3 linked regions of the Homo sapiens genome follow. The protein of the gene in region 1 interacts with the protein of each later gene in a pairwise test. Each region holds a gene or a part of one and is shown in the gene's direction. Other genes may lie near its edges.

The links.
Region 2: the proteins of SLC15A4 (region 1) and TASL interact in binary tests that used the Homo sapiens proteins (3 or more experiments, as listed by UniProt).
Region 3: the proteins of SLC15A4 (region 1) and GLP1R interact in a protein complementation assay, tested with the Homo sapiens proteins (2 studies listed by BioGRID).

The regions. Positions count from the first base shown.
Region 1 is NC_000012.12:128,820,944-128,828,333, reverse strand, and holds the start of SLC15A4 (solute carrier family 15 member 4), read left to right. Parts: upstream 1-4,375; 5' UTR 4,376-4,390; coding exon 4,391-4,936; coding exon of another isoform or gene 4,937-5,086; intron 5,087-7,390. UniProt on the Homo sapiens protein: Proton-coupled amino-acid transporter that mediates the transmembrane transport of L-histidine and some di- and tripeptides from inside the lysosome to the cytosol, and plays a key role in innate immune response.
Region 2 is NC_000023.11:30,574,741-30,581,781, reverse strand, and holds the start of TASL (TLR adapter interacting with SLC15A4 on the lysosome), read left to right. Parts: upstream 1-4,015; 5' UTR 4,016-4,144; intron 4,145-4,915; 5' UTR 4,916-5,030; intron 5,031-7,041. UniProt on the Homo sapiens protein: Innate immune adapter that mediates the recruitment and activation of IRF5 downstream of endolysosomal toll-like receptors TLR7, TLR8 and TLR9.
Region 3 is NC_000006.12:39,051,781-39,058,806, forward strand, and holds part of GLP1R (glucagon-like peptide 1 receptor precursor), read left to right. Parts: intron 1-4,616; coding exon 4,617-4,713; intron 4,714-5,691; coding exon 5,692-5,799; intron 5,800-7,026.

The DNA.
Region 1 (7,390 bases):
GACTATGCTGTCCAATACGGTAGCCACTAGCCACAAACCACTTGCAATATGGCTAGTGTAACTGAGGAACAGAATTTTTCATTTTATTTAATTTTAACTAGTTTCAATAGCCACACATAGCTAGTGGCTCCTGCGCTGGACTATGCAGATATGGAGAATTTTCTCTATGATAACAAAAATAAGACAATAGTGAGTGGGGAGGGTTTAGGAAAGCTAGAAAGTGTCTGCCATCTAAAGACAGTGGCTGCTGCTGAGTGTCAGCAGATTGTGGCTACAGGGGGAAGCAAATGTGTTTCCATTACCTGTTGCTACATAATAAACTGCCCCAGAATTTAGTGGCTTAAAAGAACAACCATGTTATTTGTTTACAATTCTGCTATCTGGGTTGAGGCTCAGCTGTGTGGTTCTTCTGCTGGTCTTCACATGGCTGCATTCAGTAGGCAGGTCATCTGGAATGCTGAGAATCCCCTCTCCACATAGTTGCAGACTCCTCCTCAACATATGATGGAAGGCAGGTGGACGTCTAATATGATGGCTCCGGACACCCCAGTCATGAAAGTGGAAGGTGTCAGACTTTAAGCCTGTGCCCAGACCAGGCCCAGAGACACTTTTGATGTATTCTCTTGGTCAAAACAGGTCACAGGACAGGCCCTGTGGTGTGATCTCTGAGGAATACATAAAGGCTTGAATACTATGGGGCATGGTTCAAAGTGATGGGATCATACTAATGTAACAGGTAATCACAAGTCCAGCATTGCCAGAGCTCACATTTATTTTCCCCAAATAGCAAGGCATCCAAATTTATATGTGAAACCTTTCAAACTGTAACTATTAGTTCACTTTCTTTTGGTACCAGCTTTATGGAGACATATTCGCATACCATATAATTCACTTATATAAACTGTAGAATTCAGTGGTTTTTTAGTACATTCACAGAGATGTGCACCAATCTTCCCCTCCCCTCCCCCAGTATCAGGAAACTGTACTAATCTGCATTGTCTGTATGGATTTGCCTATTGCCTATTCTGGCCATTGCATATAAATGTGATCTTGCCAGATGTGGTCTTGGCTCACTTTTTTGTTTTTTTAAACTTAGCTTTAGTTTTCTCAAATGAGGCAATGCAATCGGATTAGTTTACTATCATTCAAAAATGGCAGAGTGTATTGAGCACTGTTTGGACACTGGGTTATCACATGATTCAAATCATTTGCTTTGCTTTCATTCCATGTTTAATGTTAATTTTACTCTAGACTTTGCCTGAGCGTCAAACCTATCAGTCTTAGAAAAAATACTCAAAGATTCTGTCTCCTCTACCAACTGCAAAGTGGAAGCAGCACTGGACTCATAATTAGATATAAGCCTTTCATTGAAGTCTGAGTTCTATTGCTTTCTTTTTTATTTTTTATTTTGAGACAGTTTCGCTCTATCACCCAGGCTGGAGTGCAGTGGCGTGATCTCGGCTCACTGCAACTCCACCTCCCAGGCTCAAGCGATTCTCCTGCCTGAGCCTCTTGAGTAGCTGGGATTACAGGTGCGCAACACTACCGCCTGGCTAATTTTTGTAATTTTAGTAGAGATGGGGTTTCACCATGTTGGCCCGGCTGGTCTTTAACTCCTGACTTCAAGTGATCTGCCTGCCTTGGCCTCCCAAAGTGCTGAGATTACAGGCATGAGCCACTGTGCCACTGCACTCCAGCCTGGGTTACAAGAGCGAAACTCCATCTCAAAAAGAAAAAAAAAAAATGGCACATATGTGTGTGTGTGTGTCTATATGTACATGTTCAAGGACATATATTAGTATCCAATAATAAGTTAAAATACTAATATATGCCCTTGAACATGTATAGACACATATATATACACATGTATACATGCACACATATACACACACTTATATACACACATATATACATATATACACACAGATATACATATGTGTATACACACACATATATGAGAACATAAGGTGACTTGCATCATTTACATTCAACAAATGGTCAGTCATTCACTCATCCAGTTCAATCTAATACCTATTTATCATTGGCAAGTGCTGTGCCAGCCTCTAGAACTACAATCGTGGTTAAAACAAAGATCCCGGCCATCCCAGCTTTGAAGACAGGCATTCAATAGTTGCACAAAATAAGTATAAATTATAACCGGTGCTGTGGGAAAAAAGTATAGGGAGTTCCAAGGCCATAAAAACGGGGAGCTAACCTAGTGTGGCAGGGTTAGGAAAGTGATATTTGAGCTGACAGCTGGAAATGACAAGCATCAACAGACAGGTGGCAAAGGTCCAATTCGGGCATTCAATTATTCTCTCCTTAGACATTGATTAAATATATATTGCCTGCTGTGTGGCAGCACTGTGCTGACCATCAGTCTATCTGTCGGACATTTAAAAAAGTTTTTTAAAAAGAGAATGCATGCAACTTCAAGACTTACTGGCAGGATTACTTCTCCAGATGACCTACTGGCAAGCCAACTTCCCAGCTACTGGCTCCACCCTCATCTTAGCTGGAGGGAATGATGAAGGAAGAGGAGGTGGTCTTACACTAATTGAATCATTGCAGCAGCTGTGGATCACGATTCCTTTCTTTCTTGCCTTTTTTTTTTTTTTTTTTTGAGACAGGGTCTCACTATGTCACCCAGGCTGGAGTGCAGTGATGCCCTCACTGCTGAATGCAGCCTCTACCTCCCGGGCTCAAGCAATCCTCTTGCCTCAGCCTCCCAAAGTGCTGAGATTATAGGCGTGAGCCATCATCCCAGGCCGGGGTCTCAATTTCTTTTTTTTTTGTCTTTTTTTTTTTTTTTGAGACGAAGTCTCACTCTGTCACCAGGCCGGAATGCAGTGGCACAATCTCGGCTCACTGCAACCTCTGCCTCCCTGGTTCAAGCGATTCTCCTGCCTCAGCCTCCTGAGTAGCTGGGACTACAGGCGCCTGCCACCACGCCCAGCTAATTTTTGTATTTTTAGTAGAGACGGGGTTTCACCATGTTGGCCAGGATGGTATCGATCTCTTGACCTCGTGATCCGTCCGCCTCGGCCTCCCAAAGTGCTGGGATTGTAGACGTGAGCCACCATCCCAGGCCGGGGTCTCAATTTCTGAAGCCATGCTGAGGGCCATTTTTGGGCGGCACTCTTTCACTCCACTATGTGCCAGGCGCTGTCCCAGAGGCAGGGGGCACAGTGAGGAACAAAACACAAGAGAATCCTGCCATCAGGAAGCTTACACCTGTTAACACATGCAGGTTGGGGAGATAAACGAATAAATTAAAAAATGTAACAGGTAATAAGGAGAAAAGAGTAACATGATGGAATGGGATACTCGGGCCTTGGACAGGCTAGTGAAAAAAATGTTTCTCTGAAGTCAACACTTCGGTGGAAGGTTGAAGGATGAGAAGCCAGCCATGCAACCATAGATGGTGTAGGGGCAGTCTCTGGGAAAGCCTGAAACAGGCTGGAGCTTGCCTTGTTCTAAGCCAGTGAGTCTCAATGGGGGCGTATTTGCCCCCAGGAGTCCTTCGGCAAAGTCTAGAAGACATTTTCGGTTGTTAACCTGAGGTGCTAGGGGGTGGAACTGGCCCCTAGTGGATAGCAGAGGCCAAAGCTGCTGCTGAACATCGTGCAACGCACAGGACAGTCCCGTCGCTCAAAGTGCCAACGATGCACGGGTTGAGAAACCGGGTCCTCTCCAGGACTGAAGCCCAGGGCAGGGAGCACGGGGGCAGCCTGAGCAAACCCGCCTGGAGAGCAGCCGCCGTCTCAGTGTGAGTTTTGGCTGCCTACTGGGCCCCACCGAAGCCCGAAGAGGGCCAGGCTCCGGCTTCTTTGTTTAAACTCCCTTAGTCCGACTGCCTGCAGTGGCTCATGCACGTAATTCCAACACTATGGGAGGCTGAGACGTGAGGAACGCTTGATGCCAGGAGTTCGAGACCAACCTGAGCAACAAAGCGAGACCCCATTTCAAAAAACTGTTTAAAAATTAGCCACAGGCAGCGGCGAGCGCCTGCGGTCCCAGCTACCCGGGAGGCTGAGGTGGGAGGGCCGCTTGATCCTGGGAAGCTGAGGCTGCAGTGAGGCGTAACCGCATGACTGCGCTCCAGCCTGGGCGAGAGAGGGAAACCCTGTCTCAAAAAGGCAAACAAAGGCTCTCGGCCGCCAAGCTGCGGAATCCCAAGCTCCCCAAGACACGCAGTGATCCAGAATACCGGCCACCTCCTCGCCTAGTGCCCGGGGCGGGGCCGGAAGTTCCGGCGAGTGGGGCGTTGAGCAGCGGCGAGCCCGCCCAATAGGGACATCTCAGGCCCGGCAGTCTCGCGAGAAGGGCGGCGGCCCTGGGTTCTGGGACAGGTGACCCGGCGGCGGGGCGAGGCAGCTGGCGGCGTCGCATGGAGGGCTCTGGGGGCGGTGCGGGCGAGCGGGCGCCGCTGCTGGGCGCGCGGCGGGCGGCGGCGGCCGCGGCGGCGGCTGGGGCGTTCGCGGGCCGGCGCGCGGCGTGCGGGGCCGTGCTGCTGACGGAGCTGCTGGAGCGCGCCGCTTTCTACGGCATCACGTCCAACCTGGTGCTATTCCTGAACGGGGCGCCGTTCTGCTGGGAGGGCGCGCAGGCCAGCGAGGCGCTGCTGCTCTTCATGGGCCTCACCTACCTGGGCTCGCCGTTCGGAGGCTGGCTGGCCGACGCGCGGCTGGGCCGGGCGCGCGCCATCCTGCTGAGCCTGGCGCTCTACCTGCTGGGCATGCTGGCCTTCCCGCTGCTGGCCGCGCCCGCCACGCGAGCCGCGCTCTGCGGTTCCGCGCGCCTGCTCAACTGCACGGCGCCTGGTCCCGACGCCGCCGCCCGCTGCTGCTCACCGGCCACCTTCGCGGGGCTGGTGCTGGTGGGCCTGGGCGTGGCCACCGTCAAGGCCAACATCACGCCCTTCGGCGCCGACCAGGTGAGCCGCGCCCCCGCGCGCTGTCCCTGTCCCTGTCCAGCCCCTGCCCAGCCCCAGCCTCTTCCCCTGCCCCAGTCCCTGCCTCTGACCGCGGAGGGAGCCCCTTGCCCCGGGGGGCTTCTGTCTAGTGCCGAGGAATCCCGCCAGCAGGTGGGCCAAGACTGGAGGTACCGGTGTGATGGGTGCTGGAAGGGGTTTGCCTGGGGCGGGGTGAGGTCTACACACACAGTGATGGCCACAGTGGCTTTAAAGAAAAGAGAGGCCGGGCGCGGTGGCTCACGCCTGTAATTCCAGCACTTTGGGAGGCCGAGGCGGGAGGATCTCTTGAGCCCAGGACTTTGAGACCAGGTTGGGCAACACAGTGAGACCTCATCTCTACCAAAATTTAAAAATTTGCCCTCCGTGGAGGCGCACACCTGTAGTCCTAGCAGAGAAAGGAGGATTCCTTGAGCCTACGAGTTTCGGAGGCTGCAGTGAGCTAGGGTCACACCAGTGCACTCTAGCTTGGGTAACAGAGTGAGACCCCACCTCAAAAAAATAAATAAATAAAATTTAAAAAATACGCTGAGCGCAGTGGCTCACGCCTGTAATCCCAACACTTTGGGAGGCCGAGGTGGGTGGATCACCTAAGGTCAGGAGTTCGAGACCAGCCTGACCAGCCTGGCTAAAAATACAAAAATTAGCCGAGCGTGGTGGCGGGCACCTGTTCTCTCAGCTAGTCGGGAGGCTGAGGCAGGAGAATCGCTTGCACCCGGGAGGCAGAGGTGCGATGAGCCGAGATCGCGCCACTCCACTCCTCCAGCCTGAGCGACAGAGCGAGACTCTGTCTCCAAATAAAAATAAATAAATAAATAAAAAATAAATGAACGGGACCCTTCTATGTTCAGGCCCTGTAAGTTCAGACCAGAAGGCTAGGAAAGAGCAGTTGTTTGAGGAGCTTTCCAGACATGGGGATTCGCAGGTGCAGGGCCCTGGGCCAGGAAGCTGAGGGAAGGGGAAGCCCCCGTTGTTGCCTTAGCTTCCTTTACAAAGAAGTGGGAAAACACTCATATTGCGTCTTCGTGGCTTTAAAGGAGTTACGGGCTAGGTTGGGTCGGAAAGCTCAGATGAAAATGAGTTTGAATCAAGTTAGCATCAAGCTGCTCCCCTGCAACTGTAACTGCCAAGAAGTGAGGGAGGAACCACTGCAGCTCTTCAGGAGGGGCAAGGACGTGGCCACCAAGTATTATATGCAGAATAGGCCGCCTTTAAGAGCAATAGCAAAGTCAGATCGTTTCAGAAAATATAAAAAAAAGTGGGAAGTGAGGTGGAAGGCTGGGGCCGGATCATGTGAGGAGTGTTAAAGCGTTGGGGATACAGTCGAGAGCTTTACTGGGTTCCAGCAGGGAGTGATTTGTGCAGAGCAGGCACTACAGCTGGGGTAGCAGGTCAGGTCTGCTTCTTATTTTCTGAGGATTCACAAGCTAAGAATGGTTCTTAATATTTTCTTTCTTTCTTTTTTTTTTTTTTTTTTGAGGCGGAGTCTCGCTCTGTTGCCAGGTTGGAGTGCAGTGGCGCGATCTCAGCTCACTGCAACCTTCACCTCCTGAGTTCAAGCGATTCTCCTGCCTCGGCCTCCTGAGTAGTTGAGACTACACGTGCACGCCACTGTGCCCAGCTAACTTTTGTATTTCTAGTAGAGACGGGGTTTCACCGTGTTGGCCAGGATGGTCTTGATCTCTTGACCTTGTGATCTGCCTGCCTCGGCCTCCCAAAGTGCTGGGGTTACAGGCATGAGCCACGGCGCCCAGCTAGTTCTTACATTTTTAAGTGGTCGGAAACGGGATCATTTGTGACCAGTGAAAATTTTATGAAAATCAAATTTCAATCTCCATAAATAAAGCGTTATTGGAACATAGCCCCACCTGTTTCTGCAACACAGCCACTACACTGGGGCTGCTTTCACTAAGCAGTGGCAGAATTGAGTAACTGTGATGGAGACGAGATGTCTCATAGAACTCAAAATGTGAACTGCCTGCCCCTTCACAGAAGTGTGCGGATGCTTGTAGAGAATGGGTTGTGTAGGAAGTGGTGACATTAGGGACATGAGGTGGGAGTCTCTCCTAACTAGAGTGGAGGCAGTGGAGGTGGGTGAAGTGGATGGATGGAGTTCAGCTATGGAAGTAGAATGGGCAGGAAGTACTGGCAGGTTGTCTCCCTGTTTGTGTTCCTATGTAGGAATACCTGAGGCTCAGTCATCTATAATGGAAAGATGTTTCTTTGGTTTAGGGTTCTGCAGGCTGTACAAGAAGCAGGGCGCCAGCATCTGCACTGCTGAGGGCCTTGTGAATGGGAGCCAGCTGTGTAGAGATCACATGCACTAGAGGAAGTGAGAGAGGGGAGGGAGGTGCCAGGCTTGTAAACGACCTCTCTCATAGGAGAGTTCACTCCTGTGACAGCCCCAAGCCTTTCTTC
Region 2 (7,041 bases), on another chromosome or scaffold:
TTTAGTAGAGACAGGGTTTCACTATGTTGGCCAGGCTGGTCTTGAACTCCTGACCTCAGGTGATCAGCCCATCTTGGCCTCCCAAAGTGCTGGGATTACATGTGTGAGCCATCGTGCCCGGCCAGGCAATAATGGTTTTATATGGGACTGGAAATTGGCAAGTAGGATGTGACAGAAAGACATATTGTTGTGGAATTTAGAGTGCTACTAGGAGCACTATGAGGTGAATAGAGGGTAGCCAGGGTGGAGGAAACCTGGTGAGGATTGAGAGTGAGCTAGGAGGGATGCTATCATAATGGAAATAACTTGGAGGGTGTTTTGTACAGCAGGAAAAGTAATTGAATAATAGGAATAATGTCCATTTAGAGGCACAGATATCGAGGCAATAACTTTTACCTACTATTCAGCAGATTAATAGAAAATCATATTATAAGATTTCAGCTACAAGGGATATAATTCTATTTTATTTTAACCAGTAAAGAAAAAGCTGTTTAAAGCTGATTTTGTATGCTCAGGTTTTATCAAATGAGAAATAGTAGAAATAGTAGGTTAGCTTGGCATAGTGCCCATTTTTTCCTTACAGAATCTTTTTTCTGCAAAGGAGGTTTTTCCATCAAAGGGGTAACTTTAGAGACAAAATCAAGAGTGGGCATAATCAAAATTCTGCATATTGTATTTGAATAAAACAGTAAGTGTGACTTAAGACAACGTGGAGAAGATGGAATCACCCCACAATGGTTATTTCATTGTACTTCCAGGCGAGTTCTTGGTAACCCACCATAAAGTGTTTCTGGAGGTAGGTAAGACCTACTCTACGGTGTCTCATGACTGTGGATGAAGCAACACTAAAGTGAAATAAATCAATGTTTGGCCCTACAGGTGCTATGGTCTCTTGATCACAGCTAAATCCTTGATGAGCTAAAAATGCCTGAAGACATCACTGAACCTGATTTTGTAAGATTACACTGTAACTGAATTTGCCCCTGGGGCAATGAGTCTGGTGTTTCCTGTGATGGTAGGTCAAGTCAGATTCAGGACTAGTTGAGAAACTGTCCTTATCATGGCTCATACATGAGAGCATGCCTTCTAAAGTGGATTTAAGTAATGTTTCATGAAAAAATAATGCAGAAAATCATGACTAACAAAAATAAAAATGCTAGTATACTTTAAAATATATGACATTTTAAGATAAGTCGTTGAACAAAAGTAAACAAAATCAAACCCATTAAGTGGAAATGTTCACCTCTTAAGAGTTTGGAACTTAGCTTTGTTTTTTGTTTTGCTTTGTTTTGTTTTGTTTTGTTTTTTGTATCCATAGAACTTAGTTTTGATTGGAGTTAGGTAGAAAAAGACAGTGAAGTAGTTATGATTTGGGCAGGCTTATTCTTTGTTGGTTAACTTGAAGCAGTCAGGGTAAACCAGATAAATGATTTTGAAACCCTTAATTTTTCTGCTTTTGGGCAAGAAGAACTGACCCATTTGCAGATAGACTTGTCTGTCCTCCAGAAAAGACATAGATTATAATACATTTGGGCCGTACAATCAAAGTTAAATATGACTTAAGAATACTAGTTTTTAAAATGAAAAAGTAATACATACACACAGAAATTTCAAAAGGGTATAGAATGAAAAATGAGTCTTGTTCCTGAAACACAATTGCTTATTTCTGATTTCTTGTGTGTAGCATAAAAAAAGAAATATTCTAGAAAGGCTATAACAAATGCTGGTGAGGATAGGGAGAAAAGGGAACTCTCATACACTGTTGGTGGGAATGTAAATTAGTACAACCACTATGGAGAACACTTTGGAGGTTCCTCAAAAAACTAAAAATTGAGCCACCATAAGATCCAGCAATCGGACTGCTGGGTATCTACCCAAAAGAAAGGACATCAGTACATTGAAGAGATATCTGCACTCCTATGTTTGTGGCAGCACTGTTCACCATAGCTAAGATTTGGAAGCAACTTCAGTGTCCATCAACAGATAAATGGATAAAGAAAATGTGATACATATACACAATAGAGTACTATTCGGCCACAAAAAAGAATAAGATCCTGTCATTTGCAACGACATGGATGGAACCAGAGGTCATTATGTTAAGTGAAATAAGCCAGAAACAGAAAGTCAAACATCACATGTTCTCACTTATTTGTGATATCTAAAAATCAAAACAATTGAACTCATGCACATAGAGAGTAGAAGCATGGTTACCAGAGGCTGGGAAGGGTAGTGGAGGGCTGGTGGGGCAGGTAGGGATGGTTAATGGGTGCAAAAACTAGTTAGAAAGAATGAATAAGACAAAGTATTTAATAGCACAACAGGGATACTGTAGTGAATAATAACTTAATTTTACATTTTAGTATAACTAAAATAGTATAATTAGATTTTTTGTAACACAAAAGATAAATGTTTGAGGGGATGGATACCCCATTTTTCATGATGTAATTATTATGCATCATATGCATGTATCGAAACATCTTATGTACCCCATAAATATATACACCTACTGTATACCTACAAAAATTAAAATACAAAATTTTAAAAAGAAATATTCTATTACATAAGCATGTATATACATATATTCCTTAAAAATACAAACTGGAAAATGAGTTCTTGCTAAACAATATATGTTAGAGATCTTTTTTTTTCTTTTTTTTTTTTTTTGAGATGGAGTCTCGCTCTGTCACCCTGGCTGGAGTGCAGTGGCACAATCTCAGCTCACTGTGACCTCCACCTCTCGGGTTCAAGGGATTCTCATGCCTCAGCCTCCGAGTAGCTGGGATTACAGGTGCCCACCACCACGCGTGGCTAAGTTTTGTATTTTTAGTAGAGACAAGGTTTCACCATGTTGGCCAGGCTGGTCTCAAACTTCTGACCTCAAGTGATCCACCTGCCTCGGCCTCCCAAAGTGCTAGGATTACAGGCGTGAGCCACCGCACACAACCTACATAGGATTTTAAGTATGCATACGTTCTCATTTACTTGGCCAATATCTTATTTATGGATATAATTTTTTCTAGTCATTTATTTTCTCAAGCAATGCTGCAACAAATATCTTTTCACATAAGTCTTTGTGTACAAGTGTAAACATATAGCTTGGACAAATTTATAAAAAATACAATTGTTGGGTCAAAGGGTATGAATATTTGTATTTGAGAGATACTGGGAAATTGCCCTCTAAATATGTTTACAATCTCATCAGTAGTGTTTGAGAGTGCTTGTTTCTTCACAACTTTGCCCACACCATGTATTATTGTTTTGACCTTCGGTATTTGGAGAGGGAAAACTTTTTTCTTTTTTTTTTCTTTTGAGACGGAGTCTCGCCCTGTCGCCCAGGCTGGAGTGCAGTGGCGCGATCTCGGCTCACTGCAAGCTCCACTTCCCGGGTTCACGCCATTCTCCTGCCTCAGCCTCCCGAGTAGCTGGGACCACAGGCGCCCGCCACCGCGCCCGGCTAATTTTTTGTATTTTTAGGAGAGACGAGGTTTCGCCGTGTTTGCCAGGATGGTCTCGATTTCCTGACCTCCTGATCCACCTGCCTCGGCCTCCCAAAGTGCTGGGATTACAGGCGTGAGCCACTGCGCCCGGCCGAGAAAATTTTTTTCATTTACATTTTTAAAAATTATAAGTACCATTGAGAAATAATACTTCTTAAAAATTATAGATTAGTAACGAAACAGAATTTCCTAAAGTCATATGTGACTTTGGCTTTCTTTTGGGTGAAGGATCCCAGATAATGTACTTTTCTAGAAAGGAAATTTAATTCTGTTGCTAGGGTTCTTACAAAATGTGTAACCATAAACTATTTTAATAAGAGACAGTTTCGTAGATAGGTTTCATTTTTCGAAAAAGGGGAAGAAACACCATTCTGTGGCTTGATGTGGCTTTGTCAGTTACTGCCTCCCCACCTCCCGGGACTTCCCACTGCCTCTTTAGCACAAATCGGACTTGAACAAAAACAACTCTTTTTCCATGGGACCAATTATAAAAAGAATGGCTTTGCACTGAGCAGCTCAGTCTACTGGTCTCATCAGTGAAAGGCTTGTGAAAATTTCTGGAAAGAGCATTGGCTGGCTTGTTCATCTCTCTGTTTGGTCAGTTGCTGTGTTTCTGCCGGATCAGATGAGCAGATTGGTTAGTGAAGGTAAGAAAAAGAAAGCAAAGGACCCTAGAACTCCGCTATTATTTTTTGTCATCTGTCTTCTCACGCTTTCTTAGCCCTTTATCACGAGAGCGCTGATCCATTCTTATGACATCTAAAATGCTTTTCTAGCTTACCATATCAGAGACAAGTGGGAGTTTAAACAAGCATTCAGTGGAGTTGAAAAATAAAGAGAAATTAAGCCCAATACTTCCTTTCCTTACCTCCTCGTGTCCACATTCTAAGCATTTCTAAAACACTTATATTTTTACCTACAATTTTTGACTGATCTGAGCAAATATTTATTGTGTTATTTTTGCAGTCCTCTTTCACTAATTGCCACACTGGTTTAGCTTCTGCATTTTTAAAAGAAGGCCTAAAAACCTAAGCAGGGTTTTGCAGGGACAACACAGCTCTTGAATTCAGTTACGGTGATGCAGTTTTAGAGACGAAAACAATCACAGTCCTTTCCAATTGGATTTGACTCTCAATTATTCAGTTCAGCAAGCTTGTGATAGTGTTTTTCTGTGTGGCAGGATGTATTCAAAATGAATGCGATCTATAGTGAGGATGCTTTTCGACTTTCATCTGGGTGATTTGGGGAAAGCTTCCCTTTTGGTATTAAAGATAGCGCATGTACGAGTGGAGTTTTGTTTGAATTATCTTTAGACTCGCTCAAACATTCTTTGTCTTGCGCATATGAATCTGTGCTTAAATATAGACCTGGTTTGGACAGAATATTTATATTGATATTTTATAACATTTCTTGCATAGGTCAGTGTGAGAAGAAGATTGTTTCTGAGCTTGAGAAGCTTCTGGAGGATTGAAGAGTATTTGAAGTCTGTGTCAAACATCCATATCATAAGTGGAATTTTGGAGATATTCAAAGGTAGTACACTAATTCTATTATCTCAGAGCAAAATGATGTTTGAAGTATTTATATCAAGTCACTGAGACATTTCTCATCTCATATGTAGTGATTATTTTAGATATATAAGATATTGTCCCTCTAGGCTCTTAATAAACATTATACAATGTAAATATGCCTTCATTAACTAAATATGGTTTTTTCCCCCTCCCAATTTTTATTTAGAAATGTTTCAAATCTATATAAAAATTGAAAGAATAGTACAACGAACACCCATATTTTCATCATGTGTATTAATCAGTGGTATCTTTTTGCCACATTTACTTTCTCTCTCGCTTTGTCTTTCTCTGTCTCTGCCTGTCCTTTTCTCTCTCTCTATATGTGTATATATATATTCACACACACGCATGCACATATGCACAGTTTTTTCCCTGAATGGTTTGAAAGTATGTTGCTGACTTTAGGACACATGTCACCCCTAAATTCTTGAGCATGTATCTCCTAAAAATAAAGGCAGTCTTCTATAACACATTACAACACCACGGAAACATAACATCAACACAATACTATTATCTAAGATGTGATACACATTCAAATTTTCCTAATTATCCACATGTCCTTTAGAATCTTTTTATGTTTTAAATCCAGGATCCAATCAAGAATCTTGCATTGCATTTGTAGTTGACATGCCTACAATTAAGTAAATGTTAATGAAATTGGCATAATTAACATGATTAACAATGATTAACAATTATAACACCAAAGAAATTTATATCAGTACAATACTATTATGATAGGTTTCTTATTTTTTTAGTCCTCTCATTTTGCATCAAAATACATTGAAAGTGATTCAAAAAATGATCCAAAAGGTTTAATTTTTCAATTTATATCAAGAAGGAGTATAAAGAAAAATCCAAACTATGATAAAATATATTTACTAATATTTCTGCACCAAAGTTTACATTTTCTGAACTAAGAAAATTCACACATCAGATCGTCCTTGGAAGTAGCCATTAACTTTGGTCATAAGAATCTAAGCAGAACCAAACAAAAAATTATTTATTTACTTGGTAATATTAATATGAAGAAGAGAGGGCTTTTGATTTATGATTGTATTATCTTAGCCATAAAGTTATACTTTCAGAAATTAATTTGTTAAGAATCACTTCATATTTGATACAAGAATAGATAATCCCAAATTATATGATTTGTAACAGAAATTGAAATATTAATGAGCAATATTTTAGAGCATTCATCAATAAATTCAATACAAGCTGAAATAATAGGGATATAATCTAAGGTATGTGATTAAGTGATTATTTCCAGCTCTAAGGAACAGGTATTTTTAAAGATAAGAGTAAGGAAACTGCAGATGCTATTTTATACAGGGAGGTCCTTCCTAAAGAAGCTTTTTGTTTAGGTAAAGGTCTAGCATCATTCACTGAAAAAAAACTGGAACATGTAATACAGATTTGGTTACATTATCATAATTAAATCATGAACAAAACAATATTCAAGTTTTTCAGTGATCACTTTTCAGCAATTTACCTGCAAGTCCCCCACACCAAGAAAGTCTTAAAAAGTTTACAATGGAATTATGGGATTTAGAATTTATATTATAGGGTAATATAATATAGAGGTAAAGAGATGAAATACAGGATTTTGAGTTTTGCAGGCATTAAAAAATAACACATGACCTACATATGATTTTAACAAGACTCTCTAATTTGAGACAAACATAAATTAGCTCATTTGATTGGAAAATTAAAAAAAAATAATGTGCTAAGGAATGTCAATGAAAACAATCTCAAACATTGCTGGTGAGAGAATAAATTGATCCAAGCTACTTGAAAGGAAATTTGGCAATAGCTTTGATCTGGTAATTCTGCTCCTCCAAATCTGGCCTGTGGAAATACTCACGGAGGCATATGCAATAATTACACATAGTGGAAAAGCAAGACTAATCTCAGTGCCCCTCAAGAGAAATGATTTACTAAAATAAGATGTGTCTTTAGATGTACTATTTCAAAAC
Region 3 (7,026 bases), on another chromosome or scaffold:
AATGAGTCCCTGTGTGTGCAACATCTCAGCATGCAACTGTACATCTGACAGTGTCTATGTTTTTGTGACCCTGCATATGATACTGTGTCTGTGGGAGGGTCTGTGTGTGTGTGTGGGGGGGGGGGCATCTTGGTGTGTGAATGGGTGTCAACTAGTGTGTGTCTATATGTGCAGGAGAGATAGTGTGCATGTGAGAGTGTCTGTGTGTTCCTCTGTGTGTGTGTGTTGGGGACAGTGTCTCAGCATGCGACTGTGTACCTGGCAGTCTGTGAGTGATTGTGTGTGGTGGGAGAGAGTCTGTGTCAGTGTCTCAGTATTGGGAATGTGCTTGGGGGCGTGTGTGATGATGCGTGTGACCGTGTGTCCACGTGGGGGTTTTTGTGACTGTAAGAACATGTGTGTAGTATTCCTTTTCCTGTCCTTTCGTTCAGATATCTAAAGCCCTTAGGGAAAAAAAATGGATTGTAAGCTCTGAGCTTTTGAAAAAAAAGAAAGAAAGAAAGAAAAACAAGGGGCGGTCAAAGAGACAGGGGTCTGTTGATGGAAGGGGTGATTTGACTTCTGGGAGGTGACACAGAGGAAGGAGGTTGGGGTCCTGGGAGGAGATGCCAGGGAACCTGAAGGGCTGGACTTAGTTGGGGGACTCCAGAAATTTGAGTTGGAATCCCTCCTTCCTCCTTCTGAGAGGCCTTCCTGCATGTCTCCCACCTCTGTGCCACCTCCTTCCCGTCACCAAAATGGTCCCCAGAGAAAGAAAGAATCTGATACACTTATTCGCACTGAGAAATAGGAGTGCCTTTCAGATTGGCAGCCAGTGTTTGGAGAGGGAGCCCCTTCCTGGGGTGTTGGAAAGCCCACCACCCCGGGGGCTTCCACTCCACCTGCTTCCTTCTCTGCTGTCCTTCCTTCCAACGCTGCCTGCTTGTACAGGGCTTGAGAAGTCACAAAGATTTTCACCTGCTTTATCTTGTTGGATCTGTGCAGTTTGAGAAGAATGATATGCCCATTTTATGGACGGCAGAACTGGCAACTGATGAGGAAACTGAGGTCCTAAAAGATAAATCGTGTCCCACAGTCCTGCATTAACAGAGCTGGGATTTAGACCAAGAACTTATAAATCGCTGTCCAGTGCTCCTTCCTGTAGACCACACCACTCCCTCCTGGTGTCCTCTTTCCTGTCTCCTGCTTCCTCCAAAAACTCCTGAATCTGAGGGATGCCCCTTCCTTCTTGTAACCTCCAACCCAGGTGTCGTCTCCACGTGCCTTCATCCACCTCAGAGAGATCCCATGAAGCCTGTCAAGTCTTGATTCTAGAAACTGCCATCCTGCCCTTCCCATGGCCCTTTAGACCCCCTCTGACCGCTGCTTTGCTCTCCTGGTCAGCTCTGCTGCCTTGTGAGGGACAGGGACATCTGGATTGCATCCTTCCCGCTACCCAGAACCCACAGCCCCACCTTGTCAGGCTTGCAGCAGGGACTTATGTTGTGGGAGGATGAAATGGAGGAGTGGGGGACACTGGTGGGCAGGGCCTTGCCCCTCCTCACAGGGCATGGGGTCCAAAGCTTCCTCCCTGCTTCACTTTGCCATTGGCTGTGGTTACTGCTGGAAGATCTCACAAATTAAGCAGAATGATTGGTCATTGGACATGAACATATATTCATTTCCTCTTTCTGGGAATATGTTGATCCTAGAAGTGAGGAAGGGGTGGGGCCCCAGTCCCCAGGAAGCCTGGTCACTCCCTCCCACTCTGCCCTTTCCACTAAACAGTAGAAATCATGGGGATTGCTGCCATTGACTGAGCCTTCTCCATGTGCCCACCATCCTAAGCATTAACTCAGTCCCCACAGCCATCCCATGGGGGAGGGGCTGCTGTTCCCTTTTGCACAAGTGTAAGCTGAGCCTAAAACATACAACTCTTGCACTCGGTTGCAAACCTAATATCTGGGTGACCCAGGTCCAGGCCCAGATCTGAGCCCAAGGCCAGGGTTGTTCAGCCTCCACTATGTTACCTGGGCACCCAGGCCCTATGGCACTGGGTGGCCCTAGCCTCATTTACTCAGTCTTTCCCCAGACCAGAACCTCCCATCTGTCCCAGGGCCCACCACCACTCTCTCCCTGCCCCAAAAAATCCTCCTGATAACAGTCCACAGCTCTCCTCTGCTCTCCGGAGCACTGATGTCCCCACCTTTGTACCTTTTCCCTGCTGTGCCCTCCTGCTGAAGTGCCCGCCCTCCTCCTTGCTAGCCCAGTCTGCCTCCAACCCCCTTCACCCCAGCCCCACCTCACAGTCCCCAATCCCTCAGGCCTCTTGAGTCTGCACTGAACCCTGCCCCAACCACTCCCTGAACACTTTCACCCACTGCCTTCCCTGTTATGTCACTTGTCCTGTAAAGCATTGACCCCCGAGTAGCCTGAAGACTCTCTCAGGCAGGGCTCCTGCAGTCACCTTTATACTCCCTGCATTCCCCTCCACCCACGACCACCCAGAACCTGGCACAGTTATGGTTTCTGTAAATACGAGGCGTGGGAGAGGCCAGAAGTCTGGGTAGTTTGCACTGTGTGTGCCTGCAGGGGTGGGATGAAGGCTCGAAGGTATTTAGAAGCCCTGATCTGGTGTAGGGAGGGGACAAGATACTCTTACTGTCAGGAATCCCTCACCTAAGGGGGAGCCACAGCCCCATCCTCAGGAAGCTCCAGTCTGAGGGGAGACACAGCCCCGTCCTCAGGGAGCCCCAGTCTGAATATAGTTTTATGTCCACAGCTCTGCTCAGAGTAGGTGACAGCGCTGCCCTGGGGTGCAGGAGGCCAGATTGGCCTTCATGGCGCTGTCGTTAACCCCTCCCCCCGCCTCTGGGAAGAACTGGCTTCCATACCTCTCTGCCTGCCCCAGACACACCTTCTGCCCCAGTTCCCAGCAGTGACCTTGTGTGTGGTCTGCTTTCATTCTAGAAACAGAAACCAAGGGGGATTTCTCCGTCTCTCTGCCCTCCACCCCCAGCAGCTGCTGCATTTAGGGGCAGCATGGAAGAGCCCTTTACCCGGAGAAGAGGGAAGAAGTGAGAAGGGAAACGGGGCGGTGGGGGTTGATCCACCAGGACTTGCTCTGATGAAAACTGTGCCACCTCCTCAGCTGTGGCTAATATCATGGACAACACCTTTGCAGCTGTTATGTTTGATTTCTTGTTCTTTTTTTCCCCAAGCAAATACAGTTGACCTTTGCCCTCAGAAGAGCTCTGTCCTTCAGGGTAGCCCCTGCCGCCTTGGCACACTTATGCCAAGGATGCTGCTGGGGCTTAAAGTGAGCTGGGCCCTTCCATGGGGCCTCCGAGGCAGCAAGGGGTGAGCAAGGCAACCCAAGTCTCTCAGGGAGGTGTGTGATAAGCCAGCTAGAACCCGAGACTGGATCCAGCATGTGCCCAGCACGCTACAAGGCAAGGGGGCAAGCTTCTAAAAAGAAGCTATTTTAATTTCAGCACACGTGGACATTTTTGTGATTTCAAAAAGCAAAATGTTGTTTTAAATTATGTATGGGTCCTACATTTTATACATGGGGCTCTTGGGTCATTTCAGCATCTGCAGCCTCTGAAGGACGAATATTTATAATTTTTAAGGCTGTTCAGGAAAAAACTAAAAAGAACGACAACCCCAAGACATAGCTGAAGGAAGTGCACAAAAACACTCAGAAGGAATGGTGGATTCTCAGTGGGATGGGTCTGTTTGGGTCTGTGTGCTGAAAAGCCATTTCGGTGACCTCACTGGAAGTGGAGGCTCAGCTCTCCCTACTCACAGGTGAGAGGGATCCCTCCCATTGCACGTGTGACTTCAGTGTTCTGGAACCTCCCTGACCCCTTCACCTCATGTCCTCAGGACTCTTCCTTTGGGTGGATAGAAGCTGGGTTGAATATTAGATTTGGTTGCTGTGTCAGAGGGGAGCACGGGGAGGGGGTGGGGGGTGCTGTGTTGAGTGCATCTGTAAGTGAGTGCGTTTTGGAGGAGGAATGCTAATGGCAGACATCCCAGCTCTTTGTAGCCCTGAACGCCACTACTCTCCCCGGCCCCCGCACACCTTGCGATATTCTACCATGGTCACTGATCTGAAGGACTCCAGATTCTAGCCTTAACTCTGCTTCCTGGGGGGGCTGTGCACCCTTGATTCAGTTCCTCTCCCACTCTGGCCTGTGTGTCTTCTTCTAGAATGGTTGAAAGTGCAAGAAGCCCTCAGGCAGGCTGACTAGGCGCCAGAAGGAGCTTAGAGTCCTGGGCCCTCAGAAAGTCTCTCTCCTAAGTGAGATCAGAGATCACAAATGAGACACACACGCTCCTTTCCTCCTTCACCCACCCACCTCCCCAAAAGCATCAATTTAGCAGACATTTGCTGGGTGCTCGTGACACATCAAGCTATGCACCCTGGGAGGAATGAAGATGTCAAACCATCCACCTGGGGCCCCTGGGTGGCAGTGACTTATTCTCACTCTCTTTCAGAGGTGGCTGATGCCTGGCAGAATTTGGGGCTTTGAGGTTTCATGGAGATTGAGAAACCAAGTGTGTTAGGGGGTGAGGGGGCAGGAGAGGGGCTGGCTGAACCCACAGGCCTCCCATATATGCCCTCCCCCCAGGGTGCCACTGTGTCCCTCTGGGAGACGGTGCAGAAATGGCGAGAATACCGACGCCAGTGCCAGCGCTCCCTGACTGAGGATCCACCTCCTGCCACAGGTGAGTCCATGTAGGCTCCCCACCTTTAGTGCTCCCCACCCAACCAACTTCTGGAGGACTTTGATGAACTCAATGTCCATGGCTGGGAGCCATTTGCCTCTATAGGATGCCACCCCTGCCCTCTGCCTTCATCTCATTGTCCAAGCTACTCCTTCACCTGGATACCTTCCTTTCTGCCGACCAAAATCTTCCTTTTCTTCAAAGTCCGCGGAAGCACTGCCTCCTCCAGAAAATCTTCCCCAGGACTTCTGCCATCATTTGGCCCTTACTCGTTTGCTGTAGTCTGCTTTGGGGTTGCTGTCTTATTTCTGTCTTAGCTGTCTTATCTGTGTGTCCTTCCCTGCACCGCCGGCCAGCCCCCCAGCTAGAGCCTCTCAGAGCAGGCACCCGGCCTTTCCATTTTTGTCCTCAGCACCTCCCAGCCTGTGCATGGACTGAGGGCTCCACAAACATATTTATAGGAATAAATGTTTCAGGGAGTTCACAAGGTGGTTTAAAGAGCACGGGATTGGAGCCCGCTGGGCCTAGGTTGAAATCCTGACTGTAATTATAACACGTGACCTAAAGAAGGTTATCTTAAGTGAGATCAGAAGGAAGGTAAGCTAACATTTCCCTCTAATCTGTGAAGTGCAATTTAAGAATAGGCCCATAGGGATTTTTCATTGAGCACGTACTATGTTCCATTATCTATGTAGCATATAGTCTTGATCCCACAAAACCCTATGGGGCTGGAAATACTCCTGTTTTACAGATCAGGAAACAGACATTAAGTTACTTGCTCAAGGTCCTGCCACTGATAAGTGGCAAGTGCCCCTGCTTGGCTCTTGCTGGGTGGGGAAAGTGCTTGGCATACAGTAAGCATTCAGCAGAGGTTAGTGGCATGCAGCCTCCGAGGAGGGGAGGGGTCTTGGGGAAGGGAGGGAAAGGGCCATGGCCAGTCACAAGCAGGGACTCAGAGACTGTTCTTTCTGCTCCCAGACTTGTTCTGCAACCGGACCTTCGATGAATACGCCTGCTGGCCAGATGGGGAGCCAGGCTCGTTCGTGAATGTCAGCTGCCCCTGGTACCTGCCCTGGGCCAGCAGTGGTGAGCCCCCTCCCCGACCTGGTACCTGCCCTGGGCCAGCAGTGGTGAACCCCCTCCCCGACCTGGTATCTGCCCTGGGCCAGCAGTGGTGAGCCCCCTCCCCGACCTGATACCTGCCCTGGGCCAGCAGTGGTGAGCCCCCTCCCTGACCTGGTACCTGCCCTGGGCCAGCAGTGGTGAGCCCCCTCCCTAACCTGGTACCTGCCGTGGGTCAGCAGTGGTGAGCCCCCTCCCTAACCTGGTACCTGCCGTGGGTCAGCAGTGGTGAGCCCCCTCCCTGACCTGGTACCTGCCCTGGGTCAGCAGTGGTGAGCTCCCTCCCCCACCGTCCCCTGTATCGAGGAGGCTGAGGTCAAGGCGCTGCTTCCTTTCCTCTGAGACACAGCCCTCCCCACCCAGAATGTCTTTAGGCCTCCTAGTGAGTGGTCCGCCTGCCTTTCCTGGGGTGAGGGGAGCAGTCAGTAGTGATAAGTTTCATGATGGCCTGAGGTACCACCTGGGTCTGGGCGTGAGGCCAGTGCTGGCCAGTGTGTGGGGAAGGGAAAGTAAGTGTCTGAAGAGAAATGCGACCCCTTCCAATTCAGTAGTCAGGAAAAGAGCTGGGTGGGGACAGACTCTTGCGGGGAGGGAAGCTACCCAGGGTGTCTGCTGTGTGTATACATGTATGTATGATATGTGTATGCAGGTGGCCCATACCTGGCAGTGACATTTAGCTACTTCCTCACTCTTTAGAGGTTCACTGGGAGAAGTGATCAGGGCATTGGTGGGGTGACGAACCCCACCAGACTCAGCCCTCCTCAGCTCACTCCTGCCTGCAAGGGGGACCTTGTACTGGGGAAGATGTGACTGGGTAGGTGGGAAGGTCATTTCATTGGGGGTACAGAGATTTGCAGAGGCTGCAAGAGGATCCCTGACTGGAGGGTTAGTTAATGTGCCCCGCTATCTATCCCAGCCTCCCTTGCTGAGCCCAGTTTCACCCAGGCACCGTGGAGGATAACAGGAGACAAGCACCCTCATGGCAAGGAGCTCCCAGTCTCCATAAGGGGAGAAAAGATATTTCCCTATCATCATCATCATCATCATCATCATCACCATCACCATCATCATCGTCATCATAGCCAGCATTTATTGAGTACCTACTGTGTGCCAAGTCCTGCCCTAAAAGCAGGGCTTTATAACTACCCTGTGGTTATACCTGCTGTACAGATGAGGAAACTGAAGCACAAA